2 linked regions of the Homo sapiens genome follow. The protein of the gene in region 2 interacts with the protein of the main gene of each other region in a pairwise test. Each region holds a gene or a part of one and is shown on either strand. Other genes may lie near its edges.

Region 1 (4,372 bases), on a different chromosome or scaffold from region 2:
ATGTATCACAGACCTAAATACAAGAGCGAACATATAAAACTCTTAGCAGAAATGTAAAATAAGCAACCCACAGAAAGACAAATACCACACCATCTCACTTGTATGTAGAATCTAAAAGAGTTGAACTCATAGAAGTAGAGAGAAGGGCAGTTACCAGAGGATTGGTGTGGGCAGATGGGCAACAGGGAGATAAGCAAATGATATGAAGTTACAGTTAGACAGGAAAGATAGGTTTTAGAGATCCACTGCAGGGCACGGTGACTATAATAAATAATAGTGTATTGTGGGCTGGACGTGATGGCTCATACCTGCAATCCCAGCACTTTGGGAGGCCAAGGAGGAGGGTTGCTTGAGCCTACAAGTTGGAGACCGGCCTGGGCAACACAGTGAGACATCGTCTCTATGAAAAACAAAATTAGCATGGTGTGGTGGTGCGTGCCTGTGGTCTCAGCTACTTGGGAGCTGAGGTGGAAGGATCACTTGAGCCTCAGAGGTAGAGGGTGCAGTGAGCTGTGATCACACCACTGCACTCCAGACTGGGCATCAGAGTGAGACCCTGCCTCTTAAAAAAACAAATGGTGTGTTGTATATTTCAAAATTGCTGAAGAGTATATTTTAAATGTTCTAGTGACAAAAAGTAATAAGTATATTAGGTGGTAGATATGGTAATTAATTTGATTTATCATTTAACAAGGCAAACATACATTAAATCATCATATTTTACCCCATAAATATACACAATTATTCTTTGTCAACTTCTTAAAAAGATTCCTAGCAGAAAACATACAAGTAAGTCTTAATGACCTCGAGTTAGGTAATATTTTCTTAGATATTACACCAAAAGCACAAGAGAGAAAAGAAAGAATAGACTTCATCAAAAATTAAAAACCTATGCACTGCAAGCAATAGCATCAAGGAAATGAACACAATCCACATAATGAGGAAAGTATTTGCAAATTATATATATGATAAGGGATGAGTATCCAGCATATCTTCTAAAACTCTTACAACTAAATAATAATAAAATAAATAACCCAATTTAAACATGGAAAAATCTGAATAAACCTTTTCTCAAAAAGGAATACAAATGGCCAATAAGCACATGGAAAAGACACTCAGCATTGTTATTTACCAAGGAAACGCAAATTAAAACTACACAGGATATCACACCCACCCACCCAGATGACTGTAATAAACAGGAAAATAGAAAATAACAAAGGTTGAAGAATCTGGAGAGAAATGTGAGCCCTCATACACTGCTGGTGGGAATGTAATTGATGCAGCTCTGTGGAAAACAGTTTGCCAATTCCTCAAAAAGTTAAACAGAATTACCATGTGGCGTAGCAATTCCACTCCTATGTGTACACCCAAGATAACTGAAAACAGGTTCTCAAGCAAATACATGTATACATATGTTTGTAACAGCACTATTCACAATAGCCAAATGGTGGAAACAGCCCAAGTGTCCATCAACAGATGAATGGATAAATGAATGCTGATACATGGATACAATTGAATTTATTCAGTTGTAAAAAGGAATGAAGTACTAATAAATTCTATAATGGGGATATGCCTTGAAAACATTAAGTTAAAAAAAAAGTTACACGAAAGGTCACTTATAAATGGTGTGATTCCATTTATATGAAATGTCCCAGATAGGTAAATCCATAGAGACAGAAAGCTGACTGGTGGTTGCCAAGGGTGAGGGTAGAGGGGAAAGAGAGGAACAGCTAAATGGGCATGCGGTGGTCGGGGGCTATGGAGCCAGGTGACTCGGAGGTAAAAAGCAATTCTGGAAGATGACTGAGCTACTCTTCCTTCAACTTGAGAGAGGAAGGAAGAGAAGGAAGGAGAGGAGGGAAAAGACAGGGAGGGGAGAGGGGAAGAGAAGAGAGGGGGATGTGAGACAGAGGGACACAGGGAGATGGGGAGGGGAGGGGGAGGGGGAGAGGGGAAGAGGGGGAGAGGTGGAAAGGGTGAGGGGTGAGTGGGAAAGAGAAAGAGAGAGAGAGAGAAAAGGGAGAGAGAGAAAAGAGAGGGAGAGAGAAAGAGAGGGAGAGAGAAAGAGAGAGAGAAGAGAGAGAGAGAGAAGAGAGAGAGGGAGAGAGAGAGATGGTTGCCCAAAAAGAAGTTAGTGAACACAGCAGGCATTGCTCATCTTGATGGAATACACACAACAAAACTCAGTCCACTGCCTGGGCTGCCCTTACTTACCCAGCACACTCCTGGGGTAGTCGGTCCTCATGCCTGAGACACTGAACCTCATGATTTCCTGGCGCTGAGAGCCCAGGAACTCCAGGCAATAGTGCCTGGGCTACAGGGCTGGGTCTGGTTCGAGGGCAGGATGATCCCCTCATCACAGTCCCAACAGATTGCAGATCTAGTCTCCACTCCTGAGTGTCAACTGGCACAACCACAGTCCAATATCTGGAAGAGTCAGAGCTGATGAGCTGGCAGGGGACCTCTGGGAGCCCCCAACCCTATCCACAGTGCTATAATCCTCCCTCCTTTCTTCTCCCTCCACTCACCACACCCATTCTCACCTATGGTCCCTTCTGAGTCTGAGCCCAGGAGTTCAAAAATAAAGATCAGCTGAGAGAAGAATGACAGTGATTCTGGGGTCACCAGATCATGATCATGGGGCACAAGATGATGTCTCTGAGTTTCTTTGGTTGCTGTAACAGCTCAGAGCAGATTTTGGGACTGACTCTGTGTGCAGGTTCTGGGCATTGGGCTTGGCAGGTGAGGAAATGCAGGGAGGGCTCTGGAAAGGGTTAAGCTTCTGGAATTTGCAGGTGGGGAAGAGAGATTGCAATGCAGTCAGAGAGGACACGGGTGATTATGAGGTGGGAAACCAAGAATTAAATAGGGAAGAGAGAATTAAGTTTGAGGTTCAGAGGTACATTAGGGATAACAGTAGGCATTAGCTCAACCTGGGGCAAGGGTTACCTTACCGAAGATTCTGGGCACCATGGAGCTTCAGAGCAGCTGATGGGACAGCAGCAGTGCAAATGGGTCAGTGACTTTATACAGGGACTTATGTAGGCTATGAACTTATCCACATTTAGGGAGGTGCCCAGAAGCACTGGCCTCTTGGAAAGGGTGGGGCATGAGAAGCCACAGAAAGCATAAGAAAAAACTGCATCAACAGCTTAGTAAGATGTTCCTGGACCTGTTCCAAGTGACTGCTACCTTCTCAGACCTCTCGAAATCTCAGAGTAAAGGCTTCCCTAGAACCTTTCAAAGCCGTGAGTGAGTGTCATTCTTTGAACTCTGCCCACGGCAAAGAGACTTGAAAGAGATTCCTTGGCTCTCACTTATCTGAGAGCATACTACTCACCAAACATCACAGCTGGTGATGAAACTTCATATTCATCCACCCTGAAGTTTCAAGGGGTCCCTCTACTCCCCATCTCAGTCCGGCTCCAGACCTGCACTATGAGAAACAAACGCACCCGTCCAAACCCAAAGAATGGACTCAGAGACACAGAAAACAGTGGAAGCAAGACTTTTAATGATGGTCTTGCAAGATTGAATGTCTGGTAGGCAGGCACACCCAGTACGGTTACAACAAGCTATTTATCCCCTAGTGCACAAGTCTCTCCCCTGGTTCCTCGTAGGCTAAGTACGATGGGGTCACGATCTTCCCAGACGTCGCCTATTGGTTGCTGGGTTGAGGCTTTTAGGTGTTTTCTTTAGGATTGTCTCACTGCATTTTGTTGCAGCCTATAATACATTGCAATCAAAGCCAGCTCGAGGGCTTTTCAAGTATTTGACTTATGACCTAGGCAGTCAGGCAAGCTGATAAGAATAGATAAAGTGAGCTATTTTGCTGGCTAGTAAACTTTCATTCTAGACTAAACTCTGGTTTGGGAGAGGGTAACTAAGGGGACCCCGACAAGCATGCACCAGCTATGGGCCTAGTATATTCTGTCCTTCCATAGTTTGTGGGCCTCAGCCTATCTGAGGTACTTTGTCTTGGAAATGGACCACCATATCCATTATTATAATTGTAGACAGCACTGTCTATAATTCTTCAGAGTCATTTAGGGGAAACTGTGAAGATGCAGCATAATCTAGAAAAAGAGCAGGGGCTGTAAAAACCCTGCCAGGGAGAACAGAAAAGGAACAGACAGTGATAAAATAGACATCTGGGATTCATAGAATAGATGGAAAGGCAGCCCCTTTTTGTTGTTGTTTCTGGAGTGCTTTGTCCAAGGAAACGCTCCTTCTGTGTTTCTTACTGTTATTTTATTGTCACCATCACTATTATTTGTGTCACTGGATACCATGTGGGCTATTATTAGAATGCGCTCCTGTGTTTTCCATTGACTTCCTTCCCATCCCACAGTGAGATAGGTGGGAGGGTGAG
Region 2 (3,813 bases):
ATTAGCCGGTAATTGGAGAGGATGTGGGTTTGAGGGAGGGTTCTTTTTTTTGGTGGGAGATTGTACAGCATGTTTGTTTTGATGGGAATGATCCCACTGAGAGGAAGAAGTCGATGCTGCAGTAAAGAGACGGGGCAGTTGCTGGAGCAGTGTTTCTAAGAAGGTGAGAGGGATGGGATCCATGGCCTGCATCTCACTAGCGTCACCCAGGGGCAGGGCCCATCATTCATTTGGCGGGAGGAAGGGCTGCAAGTGTCCCAAAGTACCAGGTGCAGCCTTGGGCTGGGTGTGTGAGGCCGCGTGTGGGACTCTGGAGGCTGGAGCACAGCCTTCCACACCTTTGCTGACTCTTCCATGGTAACTTGTCTGTGAGGTCCCTAATGATTTTCCTACAGTGAGCTCCTGTGCCCCCAGGGCCTTGGCTGACTCCTCCCAGGCCTAGAAAAAGCAATGTGTGACAGTGTTCCCTACCCTCAAAGGCAGGGCCCTGTGGCAGGTGATTGTACTTCTGACGTCCTTCTGTGACAATTTTTTGAGAGACTTAAGGGTTTTGGGAGTAATTGTTCTCTCCCTCATCCCCCGCCCCCCACATGAAAAATGTTTTACTGTTGTCTGATTTCTTAGCTTTGCCGTGAGCATTTCTGAATGTTTGATTTTTGTGTTGAGGGCAGGAGCCTCCTCTAATCTGGCTCATAAAGTGAGAGCGACAAAGCATTGACATGGCTGATTTTATTTTTCCTAATGGCTCCTTGCACAGGAAAGTTGTGTGAGGTTTTACAGGATGTATTCAGTTGCTCCTCATATTTAGCAGATTAAAACATTTTAATTTTTGAAAAAATTTTAAGAAACAGAATCTTCCTCTGTCTCCTAGTCTGGAGTGCAGTGGTGCAATCATAGCTCACTGCAGCCTTGAACTCCTGGGGCCAAGTGATCCTCTCACTTCAGCCTCCCAAGTAGCTGGAACTACAAATGCAGGCCACCATGCCTGGCCAGCAAATGTTTTAATACTCTCCAGAGTCCATTTCTTTTCTTTCTTTTCTTTTTCTTTCTTTTTTTTTTTAAAGACAGCTTTGCTCTGTCGCCCAGGCTGGAGTGCAGTGGCACGATCTCAGCTCACTGCAACCTCTGCCTCTTGGGTTCAAGTGATTCTCATGCCTCGGCCACCCCCTAAGTAGCTGGGACTACAGGTGTGCACAACCATGACTGGCTAATTTTTGCATTTTTAGTAGAGACAGGGTTTCACCATGTTGGCCAGGCTGGTCTCAAACTCCTGACCTGAAGTGATCCGCCTGCCTCAGCCTCCCAAAGTGCTCGGATTACAGGCATGAGCCACTGTGCCTGGCCTCGGAGTCCATTTCTTGAAGCAGAAAAGCTTGAGGTTAGGCAGGTGAATTTTTGTTTTGATTTCTGCACTTTTTGTTCAATTTTGCATTAATGAGGGACAAAATGTATAAGAAATCTACTGTTGGTTCTCCCAGTTCTAGACTAAGTGATGTTGATAACCCCTTTAAAAAGATTTTTTGGCTGGGTATAGTGGCTCATGCCTGCAATTCCACACTTTGGGAGGCGGAGGCGAGGGGATCACTTGAGGCCAGGAGTTCAAGATCAGCCTGGGCAACACGGAGAGGCCTCATCTGTACAAAAAATGAAAAAATTAATGGTGGTATGCTCCTGTAATCCTAGCAACTTGAGAGGCTTAAGTGTGAGGATTGCTTGAGCCCAGGAGTCTGAGTTTACCATGAGCTATGATTGTGATACTGTACTCCAGCCTGGATGACAGAGTGAGACCCTGTCTGTAAATAAATAAATAAATAAATAAATAAAACGAAGACTTTTTGTACTCTAGCACTTCTCTACTATGAATCCCTTAGCTGGGTAGCAAGGTATAATAGTAATTGTGATAATAGTGTCATTAACAGAAGTAGCAATAATAGTAGTAATAATTATATAACAGCCTAATCTTTTTGGGTCTTTGAAAAATGCTAGGAACTGTTCTGTAACTGTCATTGATTTAATTCTCACAATAGTTTGATGAGGTAGGAACTACTACTAGTTTCGTTTTACAGACATAGAATCTTGCCGTAATCCTGGACATTCCTATAGCAGATGGTTTTTTTTCTTGTGTCTTTTCTTATTTGATCCTTATAGCAGCCCCTGGAGGCAGGAGGGGAAGAATCATCCCCATTCTTCAGATGATGAAACTCAGGTCCATGAAGGTTCAATGATTTTGCTGAAGTGTTAGAGCTGGGACTGGAACATAGGTCTTTGGTCCCTCATGTGATAGCCACAGTAGTAGTGGTAGCTCCTACCCCAGGCCATGCATCTTGAAGGAGATGAATGCCCATATGCCATTGCTCTGAGTTAGGCTTCCCCAAGGCTTATGGGGCCAGACTCCATCTTTGCTTTTTCTGGGGATTGAGGTACTTTGGAAGGGCAGTACCCCCTGGTCTCCTATGTTGATTAGGGGTGGTACATGTCTCTGATTAGTAAGAAATTGAAGACATTGATTATTAGTAAATACAATTTGGCAGACACAGCTTTTTCAAACATGGGACCTATGAGGGAGAAGTTTCTAGAAGAGGCCATGGGAGTTAGAGTATTACACTGGGCTGCTCTTCAGGGGTTTCATGGAACCTTGTGAATTCCGTTCCCCCTACAGCAGGCATTAAATAGGTCATGAGGCAATGAGGAGATGGCAGAGAAGAGGGGCTCAGCCACCTTGCCTGTGCCAAGGCTGTTCCTTGAAGGCAGGCATCTTATTCCCCACTTCTGTGACTTAGGCACCCAGCCCAGGGCTGGGAGCTGAGTAGGCACTTGGCATCTCTTGAGGAATCAGTGTTTTAAAGAGACCCAATGAGTTTTCTAGGTATTCCAGGTCTTGGAAAACTCCTTACTGGGAAGGAGATTGGGGTGGAGGAGAATAAGCAAGGTGAGAGAAGCTCAACAGCCAGGAACAGGCCTGTCAAGGCTGGTGCCTAGACCCAGGCTTCTTGGATACAGTCGCTTGCTGTTGAGAACAATGCTCAAAGCAGGAAGCTGGCTGGTGGAGGCTCAAACGGCCTCCTCTGCGTCTTCATTTCATATCCTTATTGCTCTGCATCTGGGACTGGGATACCTGTTGGCTACTGGACTAGGCTGTCTTCCTTCCCTGGCTGCTGGGCCCTTGGCATCATCTGTGACTTGGCACAAGGGTGCTGGCAGGAACCAGCTGATTGCACAAGACCCTTTCTAGCTTCAGGTTTCTCAGTTTTAGCTTTGGGGTTGTGTGGAGCCACCCTGTGTAGGTACTTTCTTCTTGTGGGTGCCTGTCCCCAAGTGAGGACAGCTAGACTCTGGGAAAGACATTTCTGAGGCTTGGAGTAAGGCTAACTTTCCCCTCCCCTAGGACCTGAAGCAGGTCCTAGGGGCAGGACTGGCTACATAATTTGCAGAGCCTCAGTGTAAAATGAAAATGCAAGGCTCCTTATTGAAAAAGAAGGAAAAAGTATTAGCTTGGTGCAAATGTAATTGCGGTTAGTGCTATTACTTTTAATGGTAAAAACTGCAATTACTTTTGCACCAACTGAATATCTTTAGGCCGGGCGTGGTGGTTCACACCCAGTAATCCCAGCACTTTGAATGGCCAAAGCAGGAGGATTGCTTGGGCTCAGGAATTTGAGACTAGCCTGGGCAACATGGTAAAACCCTATCTTTACAAAAAATACAAAACTTAGCCGGGTGTGATGGTGCATGGCCATAGTCCCAGCTATTAGGGAGGCTGAGGTGGGAGGATCACTTGAGCTTGGGAAGCGGAGGTTGCCGTGAACTGAGCTC

What was found.
Region 1: the proteins of PLEKHA7 (region 2) and IGFL2 interact in binary tests that used the Homo sapiens proteins (3 or more experiments, as listed by UniProt).

The regions. Positions count from the first base shown.
Region 1 is NC_000019.10:46,146,880-46,151,251, reverse strand, and holds the start of IGFL2 (insulin growth factor-like family member 2 isoform b precursor), read right to left. Parts: upstream 3,015-4,372; 5' UTR 2,974-3,014; coding exon 2,955-2,973; intron 2,428-2,954; exon of another isoform or gene 2,267-2,427; coding exon of another isoform or gene 2,215-2,266; intron 1-2,214. UniProt on the Homo sapiens protein: Potential ligand of the IGFLR1 cell membrane receptor.
Region 2 is NC_000011.10:17,007,637-17,011,449, reverse strand, and holds part of PLEKHA7 (pleckstrin homology domain-containing family A member 7), read left to right. Parts: intron 1-3,813. UniProt on the Homo sapiens protein: Required for zonula adherens biogenesis and maintenance. Acts via its interaction with CAMSAP3, which anchors microtubules at their minus-ends to zonula adherens, leading to the recruitment of KIFC3 kinesin to the junctional site.